2 separate regions of the Homo sapiens genome follow, and region 1 is linked to region 2. The links come from fine-mapping of genetic effects on gene expression. Tissue or cell type: whole blood. Region 2 holds a variant in brackets; the other region holds the start of a gene. All regions are shown on one strand. Distances are between the middles of the regions.

The links. PIP is the estimated chance that this variant, and not a neighbour inherited with it, causes the effect.
Region 1: CHD8 starts here. The variant in region 2 is fine-mapped to the expression of CHD8 in whole blood (INTERVAL, PIP 0.91).

The regions. Positions count from the first base shown.
Region 1 is chr14:21,453,103-21,458,329 of GRCh38, reverse strand. It overlaps CHD8 (chromodomain helicase DNA binding protein 8), which reads left to right and starts at 2,207. Exons shown (of 38, transcript NM_001170629.2): 1 at 2,207-2,298. LOC124903283 (a long non-coding RNA gene) reads right to left here and starts at 1,933. Exons shown (of 2, transcript XR_007064064.1): 1 at 1,853-1,933. RefSeq lists enhancers at 807-1,358, 1,635-1,684, 1,695-1,744, 1,359-1,910, 1,775-2,464.
Region 2 is chr14:21,414,819-21,420,045 of GRCh38, reverse strand. CHD8 (chromodomain helicase DNA binding protein 8) reads left to right here. Exons shown (of 38, transcript NM_001170629.2): 6 at 4,139-4,321; 7 at 4,404-4,472; 8 at 5,053-5,108. It also overlaps the pseudogene EIF4EBP1P1. Among named protein-coding and RNA genes, the nearest start is that of SNORD8, 20 kb to the right of the region's middle. The variant TG/G (reference allele first, on the strand shown) is at 2,194.

The sequences.
Region 1 (5,227 bases), 38 kb before region 2:
TTTTTTTTCCATCTATAGTCTTACCAATGTCCATTGGTTTTTGAAGGCCAAGACCATTGGAAATCATACTAAGATCAGTGTAGGTACCAGAAATTGGTTCAGGCACACCTGTTCCCATTTCCATAATATCTATAGCTCCTTTGATGACAGGTCTATTCTGTACCAGATGGATAATAGGCTCTCATCCTAGAAACTATTAATAATTAAGGTTATATCTGTATATGCATTTACAGACAAACACATTGTTCTGATAAATCTTAATACTAACATCAAATTGATATAATGGCAGCAGTAGCCAGGAGAGAATTTGGTTGACAGATTTTTTTTTTTTTTTTTTTTGAGACAGAGTTTCCCGCTTGTTGCCCAGGCTGGAGTGCAATGGCATGATCTAGGCTCACCACAACCTCCGCCTCCCGAGTTCAAGTGATTTTCCTGCCTCAGCCTCCTGAGTAGCTGGGGTTACAGGCATGCACCACCACACCCAGCTACTTTTGTATTTTTAGTAGAGACGGGGTTTCTCCATGTTGGTCAGGCTGGTCTTGAACTCCGGACCTTAGGTGATCCACCCGCCTCGGCCTCCCAAAGTGCTGGGATTACAGGCGTGAGCTACCGCGCCTGTCTTGGCTGACAGATTTTGATACACAGGGAAATGTATTTGGCCAAGTCTTTTTTTTTTTTTTTTTTTTTTTTTTTTTTTTTTTGAGATGGAATTTCGCTCTTGTTGCCCAGGCTGGAGTGCAGTGGTGAGATCTTGGCTCACCACAACCTCCGCCTCCTGGGTTCAAGCGATTCTCCTGCCTCAGCCTCCCGAGTAGCTGGGATTATGGGTGTCTGCCACCACGCCCGGCTAATTTTTTTTTGTATCTTTACTAGAGACGGGGTTTCACTATGTTGGCCAGGCTGCTCTCGAACTCCTGACCTCAGGCGATCCACCCGCCTCAGCCTCCCAAAGTGCTGGGATTACAGGCGTGAGCCACTGCGCCCAGCTTAAGGCCGAGTCTTATCACTCATATGACTTCTTGATGTCTCTGAGCTCCTATCATGTAAGACCATGCAATTATGTTACTCCTTGAGAAATTCCTTTAATAATCTGGAAGGATTCCCTCACTCACAACTTTAAAAAAGATTTCTTGGCCAGGAATGGTGGCTCATGTCTGTAATCCCAGCACTTTGGGAGGCCGAGGTGGGCGGATCACTTGAGGTCTGGAGTTCGAAACCAGCCTGACCAACATGGCGAAACCCCGTCTCTACTAAAAATACAAAAATTAGCTGGGCGTGGTGGCGGGAGCCTGTAGTCTCAGCTACTCAGGAAGCTGAGACAGGAGAATTGCTTGAACCCGGGAGGCAGAGGTTGCAGTGAGCCGAGATCGCCCCACTGCACTCCAGCCTGGGTGACCGAGCGAGACTCCATCTCAAAAAAAAAAAAAAAAATTAGGCCTTTAAAAAAAAAAAGGAATTCCTCCTTAAGTCCTGTTCTTGATTTCCAACTGATTCACAGTGCCCCTACTGGAAAATTTGCAGTGAATCCTAAAGCTTAGTAGCACCTATAATAGATACATGTCCTGATATTTTGAGTGAGGTGTCCATAAAGGATTACCCTAGGAAAGTGCAACTTTCACTCTCATTAGAAGAATTAATTTTTGCTTATTTGATTTGTTAAAATTGCTTTACTCCTACAGTTAAGTGAGAGGGTGGTGGTGGTTGTTGCCCGTAACCACATACGGCATTACTCCAGGGTTTCACGTCGTGACTGAGGGGCCTCCTAAGTGTATACAGCAGAGTATGTTCGGGCTGGACCTAGATAGTCGGACAGAACACCGACAGGGTCTTCACATTCTTTAAGCACTCTCACCCAGTCCCGGAGTCCGAGCCAAGATGGCTTCCCAGAAGTAGGTAACTAAGTGTTGTTTTAGTTCACAGCGCCCCCAATGGCGGGGGTCAAAAAAAGATGCCGAGGGGCCTGGCCGCCTGTGAACTGAGTCGTCAGAGGCGAGCCGCCGCCAGATTTTATTTTCAATCAGGCATATTTGTGGTCGCCTACGTACCCTTCTCATCCTCCTAGGACCTTCCACCCTCAAGAGACTTCCTGGATGGCGCTCACACTAGCTCGCTGGAAGAGGCCGGGCTTCGGTGCTGCCATTGGCGGATGGGAGCGCAGGGGGGCGGAGCCTAGGGAGAATGGACTACTAGCAAGCTAGATTGAGGCGAGGGCTGGCCATGCTCCGCCGGAAGGCGCCTTGTTCTCGGAGAGGGTGAGTTGAAACGCTGCCTGGAAAGGAAGTACCAGGACTTGCACAGGTAGGCTTCCCGCTCGCACCCGCTCCTCAGTGCTGGGCCAGGAGTCAGCAAAAGCTGAGGCTCTCAGAGATTTGATTTAAGTAACTCCTTCTCCTCTCTCTTCCACCCCCTGCTCGCCCCCCAGTTGTGAGGGATCAGGTGCGGGGTGATGCTCCGGACTGAACCAGTCTCCTTTGTGAGAGGCCGGGGGAGAGGGTGGCTGCCGGGCCGCGGGGTCCGAGCCGGGCCGAGCCGCGAGGGACTGCTTGGGACGCTGTGGAGTTTTCAGGGCTTGTCATTGCATTACTGGGCGTAGTGTAGATTGGAGGCGGCGCCTTGTTCTCCTCTCTTCAGAGAAGGGAAAACTCCTCGGCCCCGTTTGGTTACTCCATACTTTGGATTCAGAAATAGGTGGTTAGGGTTTTCTACTTCTTTTTATTTTTTTTTCTTCTGTATTTTAATAATAAAGGTGGGTAGGAAAGCATGGGGTAAGCGTAAGCAGATTGTTACTCATTCTCAGGTGTAAGTTCTGTGGGTCTCCTGGCAGTGAAGAGCAGGCTGTTGGAGAATGTTTAGAGATGGTGGGAAGAGAGGAGCTCAAGCCTTGCATCCTCCTTGACAGGTCTGCAGAGCTCACTGGTTTTCCGTTGCATTATGTAAACTCGTCACTGATAGAAGACCCTTCCCCCTGCTTTGGAACGAATGCAGTTTATTTACCTGTCTCTAGTGTCGCAGGGAATTTCCCTGCAGCAGCTGTATAAATGCAGCAGCCTCTTGCTTTTTAAGGGACAGTCTTGAAGCGGTTAGGGTCTTCACAGAAAAGGTATATAGTGGACCCATCTCTTTCGTATGGCTAAGCAAAGTGAGCCAGAAGTCAAAGATTTAGAACTCTGTCTTTTTCTATTAAAGAATAAACAGCGGAGCGCCCCAAACACAAGCCAGGGGAGCTGCCTTATCAGTGTCTGCTGCATCCTACCATCACAGCGGCGTCTACAGATCGTTTCATCTCCATGCTTTTCTGAGTTTGTCGACTCAGTCAAGGATTCTCAGCCTAGGTTAGCATATGCTGAAGTCATCTGGTGTGGGGCACATTACATATCGAAAGTGAGTTTGTGATTTGAATCGTGTCCTGTGTTAGTTAATTAGATCGTGTCTTCTGCTTAGGAATTTCTTTTGTATTGGTCATCCAATAGGTTTCAGAACAAATTCTAGTCAACCTCATAGAGCAAGATATGAGAAACTTATTTCAAGTACTTTGGAATTATCCCAACCCTTAAAAAAAGAGTTATGATAAGAAAAACATTTTCCATGTAAGAAGACCTTCTGCTGCAAGAGAGGCGTGTCAGTGGATCTGAAGGCAAGTGAAAGATATTGGCCAAAGAGAGAGTAGGCAAGTTTGAAGAGACAGGCTTAGGAGAAAGTTTAAAACTGAAATAGTGGCTCACGCTTGTAATCTCAGCACTTTGGGAGGTGGAGGCGGACGGATCACTTGAAGTCAGGAGTTCGAGACCAGCCTGACCAACATGGTGAAACCCCGTCTCTAAAAGTACAAAAAATACAAAAAAAAATTAGCCGGGCATGGTGACGCGTGCCTGTAGTCCCAGCTACATGGGAGGCCAAGGCATGAAAATCGCTTGAACCCTGGAGGTGGAGATTGCAGTGAGCCAAGATCGTGCCCCTGCATTCCGGCCTGGGCGACACAGCCAGAGGATAGCAAAGGAGTAATGGATTGGGATAAGGGATATAATGGAACAGTGTATGAGTACTTGAACAGTTTTTGTATTCTCCATGTTTGATCTGTCCTGTGCATCTGCTCTTTTGGTTTTGTCAGTTTTCTTTTCTTTTCTTTTCTTTTCTTTTCTTTTCTTTTCTTTTCTTTTCTTTTCTTTTTTTTTGAGACGGAGTCTTGCTCTGTCACCCAGGCTGGAGTGCAGTGGCAGGATCTCGGCTCACTGCAACCTCCGCCTCCCAGGTTCAAGTAATTCTCCTGCCTGAGCCTTCCGAGTAGCTGGGATTACAGGCGCCCGCCACCATGCTTGGCTAATTTTTTTTTTTATTTTTAGTAGAGACGGGGTTTCACCATATTGGCTAGGCTGGTCTTGAACTTCTGACCTCGTGATCCTCCCGCCTCGGCCTCCCGAAGTGCTGGGATTACAGGCATGAGCCACTTTTCTAAGCAAAATTACCACTTAAGATTAAGTTGTGGGTGTCAAAACTGTGTTTGCTTACTGAAGAAATAAGATTTGATATTCTCATATGTGAAAGGACTGTAACATTCAGATGAATGCTAAATGCTTTAGTGAACTGTTTGTCTACAGCTCTGGAAGAGTTAAGCTATCTTCTGAGCTTACATTGAGCCTAATACTTGGGAGGAAAACAGAAGACAAACATTTCTCTCGAGTCTCCACTTTCACCTCTAGAATCTCTCTACTTCTGGAGTTGGATTTGAGCCAGTCCTTGATCTGCAGGTCTTCGCATGACCTGTCCTTACATTACTGTGACCATTGTGGTATAATATTTACTATTTTACCTTTAGCATTTGATTCATTGACAGACTATCATGTTTCTTATCTCACTTTAACTTTTTATATCCCCTCTTACATGATCTATGATCTTTTATTCTTTTGTCTCACCAAGTTGGTGATCTTTTCATCTTCCTGTGATTTTGCTCACTTTCCTTTTCACTTAATTCACTGACGTTGTACACTTTTGCTTCTGTTTAGCTGAAACCTTTTAGGGAATGTAATTTCTGTATTTTTAGTAGAGACGGGGTTTCACCATATTGGCCAGGCTGGTCTTTAACTCCTGACCTCGTGAAAATTGAAACCTTTTAGGGTATCTAATTTTCAAGATGTGGTCTTTCTTTGGTACCTAGCACCCAAATGAGAGTTGTCTTTCTTTCTTTCTTAAGAGACGGGGTCTTGCCATCTTGCCCCAGCTGGTCTTGAAC
Region 2 (5,227 bases):
ACTTTCATAAGGCCTAGCTGGTGTGATTCCTCCCAGAAAGGCCTGGAGGAGCCCATAGGCAATGCGCAATCTGATGGCTGGTCCTTTAAATGTCCATCTCAAATTGTGATTCCTCACGGCCCGACTACTTACCTTCTGGGCCATTGCACAGGTGGCCCTGGCTGGCTTCTTTTGGGGGCTCATCACTGGCAGGGCTGGTGACCCCAGGAATGGTGGGCAGATCCCTCGGGGATGTTTTGGTCATGGGTGAGTTCCGACACTCCAGGAATTTCTAGTCGTAGATGATCCTGGTACCTCCCAGGGTGGTGCTGAAGACTGTGCCCCTGGGGGGTTGTCCTGTAGCTGCATGCCTTTGCCCAGCACCACCCAGTGAGTGGCAGGGATGGCCCAGCTCAGGGTCTGGCTGCAGTTGCTGTCCCTAGACATGGTCTCCAGTGTACGGCACCCAGGATTATTTTTTTTGTTTTCTTTTATTTTTATATTTTGGAGACAGAGTCTCACTGTCTTGCCCAGGCTGGAGTGCAGTGGCACGATATCAGCTCACTGCAACCTCTGCCTCCCGGGTTCAAGCAATTCTTCTGCCTCAGCCTCCGGAGTAGCTGAGACTGCAGGCACATGCTGCCACACCCAGGTGATTTTTTATATTTTTAGTAGAGACGGGGTTTCACCATGTTGCTCAGGCTGGTCTTGAACTCCTGAGCTCAGGCAGTCTGCCCGCCTCGGCCTCCCGAAGCGCTAGGATTACAGACATGAGCCACCGCTCCCGGCCCACCCTGGATTATTTTAAACCAAATCTAAGTACTTGTTTAAAGTGTTTCCTAAATTTTTTTTTTAAAAAGGTCATTTTAAGAATACTATATGATGGATGTGATAAAAATCAAGTCATCCAGAAATATATTAAGTAAAAAGTAGAAAGTATCTTCTAGAAATTGTTATTCTCTAGAAATAATTTAGTTTATATATCCTCCCAGACTTTTTAAAATGACGTAGAATATACATATCATAAAATATGCACAAATTTTGTTTGTATAGTTTTGACAAATGTATCGAAGTTACTTCACCAAGTGAAGAAAATGTTTCCATCACCCCAGTAAGTTCCCCTGTACTCCCTTGTAGTCAGTCCAGTTCCTCACTCCAGGGCATAGGCAGCTAACTGCTGTTCTGCTCTCTCTTACCTTAGATTAACTTAGCCTATTTTTGAACTTTATTTATTTATTTATTTTTTGAGACGGAGTCTCCCTGTGTCGCCCAGGCTGGACTGGAGTGCAGTGGCGCGATCTCCGCTCCCTGCAAGCTCCGCCTCCTGGGTTCATGCCATTCTCTTGCCTCAGCCTTCTGAGTAGCTGGTACTGCAGGCGCCTGCCACCACGCCCAGCTAATTTTTTTATATTTTTAGTGGAGACGGGGTTTCACCGTGTTAGCCAGGATGGTCTCGATCTCCTGACCTCATGATATGCCCACCTTGGCCTCCCAAAGTGCTGGGATTACAGGCGTGGGCCACCGCGCCTGGCTATTTTATTTATTTTTTGAGACAGGGTCTCACTCTCACCCAGGCTAGAGTGCAGTGGCGTGATCTTGGCTCACTGCAACCTCCGCCTCCTGCATTCAAGTGATCCTCATGCCTCAGCCTCCCTAGTAGCTAGGATTACAGGTGCACGCCACCATGCCCATCTCATTTTTTTGTATTTTTAGTAGAGACAGTGTTTCACCATGTTGGACAGGCTGGTCTTGAACTCCTGACCTCAAATGATCTGCCCGCCTTGGCCTTCCAAAGTGCTGGGATTACAGGCGTGATCCACCGTGCCCGGCTTTGAACTTTAAGTAGTATCATACAGTATGTACTTTTGGGTCTCACTTCTTTCAGCATAATTTTTTGTTGTTCTTTTTCTTCTGCCCACACATCAATGAGAAAGGCATAATGTTTTTGATAGTTCATCTATGCTAAATAAATGAGTAGTTTATTTTTTTCTTCAGTAATATTTGACTTTATGAATATACAAACGTGACTTTGTAGGAATCTGTTAAGTTTTCTAAAGTGATTATGTTATTTTATACTTCACCAGTAGAGTTCTGGTTGATACACATCTTCAACATTTGGTATTATAAATCTACCCCATTCTTTTTAATGTGTATATGTGTGTGTGTGTGTATATATATATATATTATATATATATATATATTTTTTTTTTTTTT[TG/G]AGAGAGTCTCACTGTGTCTCCCAGGCTGGAGTGCAGTGGCGCGATCTCGGCTCACTGCAAGCTCCACCTCCCAGGTTCACGCCATTCTCCTGCCTCAGCCTCCCGAGTAGCGGGGACTACAGGCGCCCGCCACCACACCTGGCTAATTTTTTGTATTTTTAGTAGAGACAGGGTTTCACCGTGTTAGCCAGGATGGTCTCAATCTCCTGACCTCATGATGCGCCTGCCTCGGCCTCCCAAAGTGCTGGGATTACAGGCGTGAGCCACCGTGCCCGGCTATTTTTATATTTTGTATAAAATAGAGACAGGGTCTCACTGTGTTGCCCAGGCTGGTCTTGAACACCTGGGCTTGAGTGATCCTGCCACCTCAGTCTCCCAAAGTGCTACGATTACAGGTGTGAGCCACTGCACCCAGCCTGCACTCTTTTTTAGTAGTTCTGTAGTATTCAGTTTTAAGGCTATAGCATAATTTATTGAACCAATCCCCTGTTGATGGGCCTTTAGGTTTTTTCTGGTCTCCTACTCCCACAAGTAATGCTCCAGAGATTTGTGCACATATGCAAATTTATAGGATAGTATCTTTGAAGTGGAATTGATAGGTTCAAAGGGTGTTGCCAAATTTTTCTTCATGGAAGTCGTGCCTATATGTACTCTCACCAAAAATGTATGAATTCTTACTTAAAAATATTTTGATCAAACTTGCTGATTTTTGCCAGTCTGTTGGGTGAAACAAAAATATAACATTTTTAAATATAAAATTATATTTGTATTGGTATAAAATTAATTTTATACTAATGAAGTTTGCTCACTGCAACCTCCACCCCCCGGGTTCAAGCCATTCTCCTGCCTCAGCCTCCTGAGTAGCTGGGACTAAAGGCATCCGCCACCAGGCCCGGCTAATTTTTGTATTTTTAGCAGAGCTTCACCATGTTGACCAGGCTGGTCTCAAACTCTTGACCTCAGGTGATCCACCTGCCTCGGTCTCCCAAAGTGCTAGGATTACAGGTGTGAGCCACCACTCCCAGCCAATTTAGTTTTGTAGATAATTAATCTTTGTGTTTTCATAAATGGGATCTTTTATTATATTTTCTGGCTGATTATATGTAGAAATGCTATTGATTTTTTAAAAATTAGTTTTATACCATTCAAGTTTACTAGTTTCAGTAGTTCTTTCATTTGATCCTTTGAGGTTTTCCAGAGAGATAATCATAATTGAAAAATAAGGCCTGGCTAATTTTTGTATTTTTAGCAGAGACGGGGTTTCACCATGTTGGCCAGGCTGGTCTCAAACTCCCGACCTCAGGTGATCCGCCTGCCTCGGCCTCCCACAGTGCTGGTATTACAGGCATAAGCCACTGTACCAAGCCTCCTTCCCAGTTTTTTATCATGAGCTGGAAGTGTTGCTTAAATTACTTAATTAGAAAATGTTTAATTCAGCCACTTGAAAGAATAAGGTAAATAAAAAATATATATGGAAAACATTTCCAGGAAATATCATTAAATAAAAAAGTAAGTGGCAGAATAGTACATACAGTAGATTCTGTTTATTAAAACAAAAAAAACTTCAGAACTAAGACAAAAAAGCAAAAAATGGAAACAAAATCTTCTTGCATTTTTGCACTAACGGGTTGCTTCTAGTGTGAATTATATTGCACCCTGCAGCCTGAGAATCCAGTTTTGATTTCCCAGAGCTTCTTGCCACTAGTGGACAGGTTTTTCTCAGTGGATTCTTGGCCTTTCATAAAGCAGTTAAGCAAATTGATATATGGTCAGTACATAGCATAATCACATTGTTTGACAGATAATCTCCTTATCATCTTTTGGTCTGATTTTTCATGAAAATTTTGGAGTAGAATCTAAGTATATGACCATGAGCAAATAATTTTAAAAGTCTTCTCTGTGAGAGACCTAACTAGTCACTCTAACTACTTTTTGCTCTACAGAAGAGACGCTCAAACCGCCAAGTTAAGCGAAAAAAATATACAGAGGACCTGGATATAAAGATCACAGATGATGAAGAAGAAGAAGAGGTGGATGTAACTGGTCCAATAAAACCTGAGCCTATCCTCCCTGAACCAGTGCAAGAACCAGATGGCGAGACTTTGCCTTCCATGCAGTTCTTTGTGGTAAGCTGTAAACTCAAATGATTTCAGAGGATTGCCTTGCTGGTCACAATCATCTGTTGACTGACTGCATCTTTTGCTGCAGGAGAATCCCAGTGAAGAAGATGCAGCCATTGTAGACAAAGTGCTTTCTATGCGGATTGTGAAGAAGGAGGTGAGGGCTTTTTATTATTATTATTATTTTTATTTATTTATTTATTTATTTATTTATTTATTTATTTTTGAAATAGAGTCTAACTGTGTTACCCAGGCTAAAGTGCAGTGGCTATTCATAGATATGATCGTAGCACACTATGAACTTCTGGGCTTGAGCTATTCTTCTGCCTCAGCCTCCTGAGTATCTGGGACTACCATTGTGCACCACTGCGCCTGGCTTTTCTCTATCTTAATATTAACCCGTAATGCTATGTTCACAGGCTTTATTTAATGAGCACCTTTGGATGTCAGATATATTGCTAAGGTGTAGTTGTGAGAGATGATGGAGGAAAGTTAGCTAGAAAACAGGAACTGCTTTACTGGTGCTTCTTTTACTTACCTGTTTAGAGTGGATAAAGGCTTACTTTTTCCAGCTATCAGGCCTCTATTATTGAAGTACCAGACTAGTTCCTTAATCTCTGAGTTATTAATATATTCAGAGATTATTGGTATGAAGTTCTGCAATGTGTGGTTAAAATTAAAAAGTTCATTCTTTTACAAATAAGGGACTAGTGACTAATTTATTTCTTTTTTCTTAGCTCCCTTCTGGACAATATACTGAAGCAGAAGAATTCTTTGTCAAGTACAAGAACTAGTACGTGATCTGTGCAAAAAGCTTGTCACCCCAAATTCCACAGGGTGGTAAAAAGTTCTCCTGGGTATCCTGGGTGGGAATGTGTCCCTTTTTTATAGTCTTGTAGCCCAGGTTGCTGT